Linked DNA regions of Homo sapiens: region 1 is linked to region 2. The links come from fine-mapping of genetic effects on gene expression. A gene starts in region 2. The other region holds a variant in brackets. All regions are shown on one strand. Distances are from middle to middle. Region 1 has its middle 65 kb from the start of ACYP2. Region 2 holds the start of GPR75 (G protein-coupled receptor 75).

The links.
Region 1: its variant is fine-mapped to the expression of GPR75 in monocytes after LPS (Quach 2016, PIP 0.95).

The regions. Positions count from the first base shown.
Region 1 is chr2:54,047,939-54,052,333 of GRCh38, reverse strand. It overlaps a transcript of ACYP2 not described here and the pseudogene HMGB1P31. Among named protein-coding and RNA genes, the nearest start is that of ACYP2, 65 kb to the left of the region's middle. The variant C/T (reference allele first, on the strand shown) is at 2,288.
Region 2 is chr2:53,857,423-53,861,817 of GRCh38, reverse strand. GPR75 (G protein-coupled receptor 75) reads left to right here and starts at 1,851. Exons shown (of 2, transcript NM_006794.4): 1 at 1,851-1,990. It overlaps GPR75-ASB3 (GPR75-ASB3 readthrough), which reads left to right and starts at 1,851. Exons shown (of 10, transcript NM_001164165.2): 1 at 1,851-1,990. The coding sequence starts at 1,890.

The DNA.
Region 1 (4,395 bases), 190 kb before region 2:
GTTATCTAAAGACATGTTCAGTAGTGTGTTTACCATACAAAAAATGACACGGTATAGTTTAAAAATAAATCTTACACAGACTTACATTTCAATTGTTTTTCTTTGAAAGGAATGAGTTGTGTACAAGGGGCTTAAATGCTTTATAGATAAGAAAAAAAACTGCACTAAAACAAACTTATTCAGCATCATCATCTTCTTCATCTTCATCCTCCTCCTTCTCCTCATCCTCTTCATCTTCCTCCTCTTCCCTCTATTTATTTATTTATTTATTTATTTATTTATTTATTGAGACAGAGTCTTGCTCTGTCGCCCAGGCTCCAGTGCAATGGTGCGATCTTGGCTCATTGCAACCTCTGCCTCCTGGATTCAAGTGATTCTCATGCCTCAGCTTCCCGAGTAGCTGGGATTACAGGAATGCATTACCACGCCCAGCTAATTTTTGTATTTTTTTAGTAAAGGCAGGGTTTTGCCATGTTGGCCAGGCTGGTCTCAAACTCCTGACCTCAGGTGATTTTCCTGCCTCGGCCTCCCAAAGTGCCGGGATTACAGGTGTGAGCCACTGAGCCTGGCACTCTTCCTTCTTTTTCTTGCTTTTTTCAGCCTTGATGATTCCTTTTTTTGCTGCATCAGGCTTTCCTTTAGCTCAATATGCAGCAATATCCTTTCATATTTTTCCTTCAACTTCGCAGCCTTCTTTTCATAAGGCTGCTTGTCACCTGCAGCAGTGTCATTCCACATCTCTCCTAGTTTCTTCACAACATCACCAATGGACAGGCCAAGATGATCTCCTTTTATTTTTGGGCAATTCTCAGAACAGAACAGAAAAAAAGCCCAAAGGAGTCCTCTTGGGTGCACTGGGATCCTCAAACTTCTTTTTTGTCACCCGTTTAGGAGGGATATAGATTTTCATTTCTCTTTCATAATGGGCCTTCTCTACCTTTGCCATGTCTTCACTTTTCTCTTTAGCAGACATGGTCTTCCACCTCTCTGAGCACTTCTTAAAAACTCTGAGAAGTTGACTGAAGCATCTGGCTGCTGCTTCTTATGCTCTTCCTGACAAGTTTGCACAAAAAATGCATATGATGACATTTTGCCTCTCAGCTTCTTAGGATCTCCTTTGCCCATTTTTAGTTATTTTTCCTCAGTGAGGCAGAGTCGCCCAATGCCTGTCTGGTTCTCACTTGCCCAGTGCTGTCTCTATGGAGTTCAGTGTACTGCAATGGCTGTGAGAGCCATTGCACAGCTCTTTAAAGGAATTTGTGACCAAGGACGGTGGTTCTCACCTGTAATCCCAACAGCATGGGAGGCCGAGGCAGGAGGATAGCTTGACATTAGGAGTTCTAGAACAGCCTAGGTAGAACAGCGAGACCTTGTATCTACAAAAAAAGAAAAAAATTTAATTAGTTGGGTGCACACCTGTAGTCTCAGCTACTCAGAAGGCTGAGGCAGGAGGATTGCTTGAGCCCAGGAGTTCAAGGCTGCAGTGAGCCATGATGGTGCTACTGCACTCCAGCCTCAATGACAGAAAAAGACATTGCCTCAAAAATAAATAAATAAAATTTTAAAAAGACAAAGGAATTTGATAAGTGCAATCAAAAATTGAACTAGAGACTATAAAGACAATTTTTAGGGGGATGCAATTGTTTTACCCAGCACTGGAGCGGTGTATACATGACTATGCATTTTTTAAAACCCATATAACTTCACAGTAGAAAGAATGAACTTTCATATATGCGAGTTTAAAATTTTGTTTTCTTTAGTTATTTTCTTTTTTTTTTTTTTTTTTCAGGGATGGGGTTTCACTCTATCACCCAGGCTGGAGTGCACTAGATATCATGCTAACTGCAGCCTCCAACTCCTGGGCTCAAGAGATCATCCCACCACAGCCTCCTAAGTAGCTGGGACTACAGGCACGTGCCACCACATCTGCTAATTTTTTAATGACTTCTAGAGATGGGAGTCTCCCTATGTGTGCTTAGACTGATCTCAAACTCCTGGCCTCACATGATCCACCCACCTCAGCCTCCCAAGTAGCTGAGATTACAGGCAAGAGCCACAGCACCTGCAAGACTTTGCGACTTTAAAGGAAACAATATACAGCAGGTCCTCAAATAATGTTTCATTAAATGTCATTTTTTAGACTGTTCATGAAAAAAATTTGGTTTCTACTGTTGCATCATGAGGTCCTAAGGAAAAAAAAGAAAAAAATTTGATTCTTTATATGTCATTTTGCTTAAAGTTGCAGTTTCCAAGAACCTATTGATGTTAAGTAAGGACTTGCTGTACA[C/T]AGAAATACACGCATTTATTTTCTAACTGTCCACTGAGAAGGCCTAGAAGCAGTGTCCACCCAGTAGCAATGAGCACACTTGTGCATAGATTTGGCTTTCCAAAAACCACTCTTCAATGAAAGAAACCAGGGCTCCTTGGAAAATAACTGATTCTAGGGCTGGATAAGGGAAAATACAAGATAAGCTTGGCAAAAAGTAAGTATAGTGCCAGGAAGAAAGGAATTGCTCAGAAAACAAGAGGGATGTGGAGCCAATCTGAAAGAGCTCCCAATGGCCAAAGCTGGAAAAATGTGAGCAAGCTTCTTATTCTGAGATGAGGAGATACTCTTTTTTAAAAAAAATACTGGTTGAAAGAATAGAAAGTACTCATAGTTGTTTGGGGGGAGTAAGAAGCAGCAGAGGGGCAAGGACTGCTGTTTTTTGTCAAAGGCCTTGGAAAATGATTTGACACTTGCAACCATGCCCATGCTTGCACAGCTTTGAAAGGAAAAAAGAAACCCTACATTAAAGCATAAGCAAACACAAAAAGAATGTAAAGTTAAAAGGGAGGATTTTGACAAGGGAAGGTTTTGTTTGTTTGGTTTGGTTTGTTTTATTAAAATGGGAAACAGCATATTTACATGTGGATAGGAAGCCAATAGAGAAAGCATAAAACCACGGAGAAGAAAAAGACACATTGACAGGGGCAAGTGTCTGAGGAGGTAAGGCAGTCTTATAAGATGGTGGAAGGATTCACAAAAGATCAGGGTGGCACTAGTCAGTTCATTATTATTATTATTATTTTTGAGATGGGGTCTCACTCTGTCACTCAGGCTGGAGTGCAGTGACGCGATCTTGGCTCACTGCAGTCTCCGCCTCCCGGGTTCAAGCGATTCTCCTGCCTTACCCTCCTGAGTAGCTGGAATTACAGGCATGCACCACCACGCCTGGTTAATTTTTGTATTTTTAGAAGAAACAGGGTTTCACCACGTTTCCCAGGCTGGCCTCAAGTGATCTTCCCACCTCAGCCTGCCAAAGTGCTGGAATTACAGGTGTGAGCCACTGCACCTGGCCCCAGCTCATTACTTCTAACCTATCTCAGAACAGACACTGACACATAGCAAATTCTCAGAGAATCTCTGTCCTTGTCCCTGCTGTTGCTTCCTGCTGAGCCCTGAGGTGCACCTACCCTTGCCTGGTATGAGGTGCTCTCATAAACCCTAAAAGTGCAGTCCCTGGGAATTTCAGAGCCAAGTCTGTCACTTCCTCTTGTCAGTGTCTAAATTAATTATCTAAAAGATTTGAAAACAATTCTGCACATTTAGGCACTGAAGATATCTTTAAAAATGCCATATATGTGAATGCATTTAATACTACTGAACTATACACTTAAAAAATGGTTGTAGGTCATGGTGGCATGTGCCTGTAATCACAGCTACTCTGGTGGCTGAGGTGGGAGGATCCCTTGAGCCCAGTAGTTCAACACTAGAGTGAGCTATGATACTGCACTCCAGTGGGGTGACAGAGCAAGACTGTCATCTCTAAAAAAATTAACTAATTGATTTAATTTTTAAAAAGTGGCTGTAATGGTAAGTTTGTTATGTAGCTGTTAACACATGGTTAATTTTTTTTTCTTTTTCTTGAGACAAAACTCACTCCATCACTCAGGCTGGAATGTAGTGGCACAATCACCACTCACTGCACCCTTGACCTCCCTTGTTCAAGCAATTCTTCCACCTCAGCTTCCTGAGCAACTGGGGCCATAGGGTGTGCCACCACACTCAGCTGACTTTTTTTTATTTTCAGTAGAGACAACATCTTCCTGTGTTGCCCAGACTGTCTCAAACTCCTGGCCTCAAGGGATCCTCCTGCCTCAGCCTCCCAAAGCGCTGGGATTACAGACATGAGCCACTGCGCCTGGCCTACAAAAACTTTTATTACAAAAAATATATATAAAATTAGGAAAAATCATCTCTAAATGAATAATACTACATTTGTCAGATTCTAATGACTTAAATAATAGAGTGAAGCCCAAGGTTACAATGCTTAGTGAGACCTGGAAGACCAACTTGATCTTCACCTGCAACCATGGAACCAGCCTTGGCTGGGGGAAAGAACTCACTTCCCA
Region 2 (4,395 bases):
GCAATAATAAGAGTGTATTAGAAGAATGCCAGTGTCAGGGCAGATTGATAGCCAATTCATGATCTATAATTAGCCCTGCTTATTTATTTGCAGATTTTCCATTTTTTTACTACTACCAATGTTTTTTCCAATTTCGCTCACTTGTGGATTTTGTAGATATACTAGTTTTAGCCTTGTTGAATGGTTCTAGCTAGTTCTGGAACTTTGATGAGTCCTGATTTCCTCTTCTAGATCTCTAGAATCCTTTATGATTTGTGGTTTTTTGTTTGTTTTCAGTTTCAGACCATTTCTCCGGTAGGTATAACTCTGATGGTCTCAATGCAGCCCAAACCTATTGTAATCTCCATTCATATAGCCAAATGCCTGGAAATGAACTAGCATTTATTTATGCAGTAGCTAATTTATTATAGAGAGGTATATAATTTTGATCAGAATTCCCACTCCAAATGCTAATGAGTATTTTTCTGTGGATTGTTTCTGGGACTCATGGTTACCATTATTGATAACATATACTGGAACTGCTTTATTGCAAGTGGTTGGGAAGTGGAATATGTGGGAACTGGAAAACTTTCTTGAAGTTATTTCTAAACAGAATTCTGATGGCATACTCAACTCCTGGACTGAATAATAAGTTATCTAGCCTTCTTGCTTTTTGTTTTTTCGTTTGTTTTTGTTTTGTTTTGTTTTTATGAAAGCACAGGGAACTGAAGAAATTGCATTAATTAAATTACTTGATACTTGCTAGTTCTGTTTTAAAAAGATAAACCATTAGCTAAAATGAAGAATCCAGTATAAGTATTTCATCCGAACGGAATCAACTTTGCTTTTCTGGTAACCAGAGTGAATGAAGGAAAGGGCATTCAAATAACATTCTCTGTTTCTAAATAGCATCCCTGAGGTTAGAAAAGTAGTAAGATCCTAGTTAGCCAGGTTGGGATACTGAAGGGAGAAGAGTTTAACTGGTTTTATTTTGTACCCATCATAGCAGACATACTTAGGAATGTTACTTGATTGTTCAGACTAAAACCTATCTTAGGAGTTCATTATTTTGGACATGTATGAATTCTAGAAGAATGAGAGAGGATGGTAATTTTAGTTTTGTGTTTGTGCTTAATAAAATTAGCTTGTACATTGCACTATGATTTATCAAGATTTTTTACATTCAACATAGTATTAAGTAATACATCAATATCCATGATTCCTGGGCTTGGTCGTTTTATTTGCATGGGTAGTTTCTTTATGCTTTGCATGTTTCCTGCCAATTAGTCCCCTTGCTGAGTTCCCTCAGTGAATTCACTAATACCTTAAGAGAGCTTAGGTAAGTTCAAATAGGTTTAATTTAAATTCTATTACAATGACTTGATTTGTAAATTCTAGGTCTCAAAGTTCCAAACTGGAAGCCGCCGCCAATTTAATTCATGAGGAAAAATATTAGCCGCAGCCTAAGTGAGGAGCTAGTTAGGACGTCTTAAAAGCGCGGGGAACGAGGAGGAGGTGGGCTGCGGGCAGGGTAAGCAGCCTAGGGAGGCCCGCAAAGACCTCCCTGGGTCCCTGCGTGCCATCAGTACCCCTATCTTTCCCTTCCTTCCTTACCACTCCACCTTGCTCTGCGTTTCAGGTTTTGGCTATTTCAGGGAGCTTGAGTTCCCCAAACAGCAAAACTGCGAGCCTGAAAAACCTGGCTCAAGCGCCCCTCGTGAGGCGGGCAGCGGGAGTGGCCGGGCTCTGGGCCCCAGGAGGCAGGCGACGGAGGCGCGGAGGGTGCGGGGCGCAGGCGGGACGCCAGGCCCGGGTGTCCGGCGGAGGGGGCGGTGCCCTCGGCGTCTCCGTGACTGCGCCTCTGCGCCCGCGTCTTGCCGCGGCTCCCGGGATGCGCGGAGGCGGTGGCGATGGCGATGATGCCTCTAGTCCTGCATCATCCAGAGCGGCAGGCGGAGCTGGGGTCCGGACTGCGAGATGGAGGAGGGGCGGCGCTGCGGCCACCCGGCAGGTGAGAGGCCGCGGGCCCCTGGAGGAGGACAACCCCACGATGCCGGAGACGGCTCCCGGAGGCTGGCGGGATAGCGAGGAGCGCGGCTGCGCTGGGCCAGGCCCGGCTCCGCGTACCTGTCTTCCTGGTGCGGCCTGCAGGGTAGCCTTCTCGCCCGTCCCTGCCGGTTCCCAGGCTCTGCTCGGCCGTGGAACCCCCCCCACCCACCCACCCACCGCCCCTACCCTGGCTGAGCCCTCCTAACCCACCACCCCTCTGCGGCATTCTTTTGCAAGCTTACCTGGCCCGGCCTAGGCCCTCCTTACCGTCACCTCACCCTTCTCCGGGAAGCCCCTACCCACCGCCAGCCCCTCACGGGGGGGTCGACCTTCCCTGCCCGCAGTTTCCCACTCTGTCCTCAGGCTGGGGGCTCCCTGGCCTCTTCATCCCTCCCATCAAATGACTCAGGTCTTCCCATCCCATTAGCTGCTCCGGGTTCAATGTAGTTCTACTGGATAGAAAGAGCAAGGGCTTTGAAATCAGATAATGACCTTGGGGAAGTTATCTAACCTCCCTGAGGTTTTCCTGATCGATAGAAATACAATGGGAATCACAATAATACAGAACCTTGCTCTCTGTGAGGATTAGGCTTTGAAAATGCTAACCTAAGACATTTTGGGGCGCGCGGGGAATGGGGTTGGAAGAATTCAGGTCGTGAGTTGATTTATGAAAGCCCCTATAGCATGTTTTAATGTTCACTAAAAATTTAAAACAGCACACTAGATATATCAGAGGCTGTTCACATATCTTAATGAAAAATCATTGCCACTCAAATTATACAATAAATTTTCATCCATATTCTTTGCTTGCTAGTTACTTCAGGATGTCTCATTTGTAAGAATATGCATGTGAATTCATTCTTACTGCAGCTAATATGCATGCTTAAGACTGGTGTTCCAGCTTAAAATCTTTCTGATTTTGTGACTTTAATCACATCTTCTATAACCTATTCTCCGTCCCAGAGATGAAGAGTAGCTTGTATGTTTGCATTGCAAATAACATGGGTAATCTTTATTGAATATTTATGAGTAGCAAAGCAGTATTAATTTATTCCCCTTCCAAAACCACTTTTATTTTCTGCCGTCATCATGTCATTCCAAATTATGGTCACAGCCTCCTTTTTCTTAAAGTCTCAGGAGTTACTACTAAGACCTGAGTTTACTTTCCCTCCATTTTCTTGATTTCTGTTATACTAAAGTTTTTCTGCAAACCTTTTCGTCTTTTCTGTCCTCTGCTTTTTCTCCCTTTTCTCTTCCCAGCCCATGATTCCTTTTTTTCTAATTATCTCAATAGGAGTGATTTATGATTACTTTATATGTGAACTACAGTTAGATACATAGAAGAATGTGTGTGTGTGTGTGTGTGTGTGTGTGTGTGTGTGTGTGTCTATCTGTATCTACATAGATGTAGATATAGCTATATAGGTGTATCAGAATTTCGGATTCCAGAAAGTTTCAGTGGGGAAGGGATTGCAATACCTATTCATAGGATTATTGTGAGAATGAAATAAAGCTTGATAATTTATGTAAAGCCTCTAGAATAGGTGCCTGGTGTGTAATAACCACTTAATACTTCTGACCTGGGGATGCCTCCCAAAAAGGTTTTTTTGTTGTTCGGGTTAGCATGGTGGTGAAGAGTGTGGAAGAGCAACTGCTTAGATTCAAATCCATGTTCCACCACTTTAGATAACCTCTCTTTGACTTGGTTTCCTCATCTGCAAAATGGAGATGTTATATCAAGTATTTCAGGGTTGTTATGAGGACTCAATAAGCTAATAGTGTGGAACATTGAGAAAAGTACCTGGCACATCATAAGCACTTGATAAAATTAATATACTAATAATGATGCTGATAATTATACTGCCATTGTTATTTCCTGACCTGGAATTCTTATTTTTTTTAATTTACTGAAGGCTGGGTACAGTGGCTCACACCTGTAATCTCAGCACTTTGGGAGGCCAAAGCAGGCAGATTGCTTGAGCCCAGAAGTTGGAGACCAGTGAGGGCAACATAGTGAGACTCCATCTCTATTAAAAATATATATATTGAAAAATTTAAAATTTGTTGAAAAAATGTAACTGTACAAAACGTGAAAGTTGCCTCTCCTCTACCCCAAATCACCTTTTTTCCTCCTGCCTCCTATTCTTGACTAATGTTAGTGCTTCATCATCTCATTTTTCTCCTAATCCCTTTTTCCAAATATCTCTTAGCCTGAGGTCTTCATAACTTCCATCATCCCGCTTCATTATTACCTAGTTACTTTTCATTTGTCTTAGCATCCTAATTCCAGACTCCTCATTCTTCTAATTTCCCCAGGCCAAATTCCTGCATCCCTCTTCACCCCTCTTCATCTCTCTACCTCCAAAG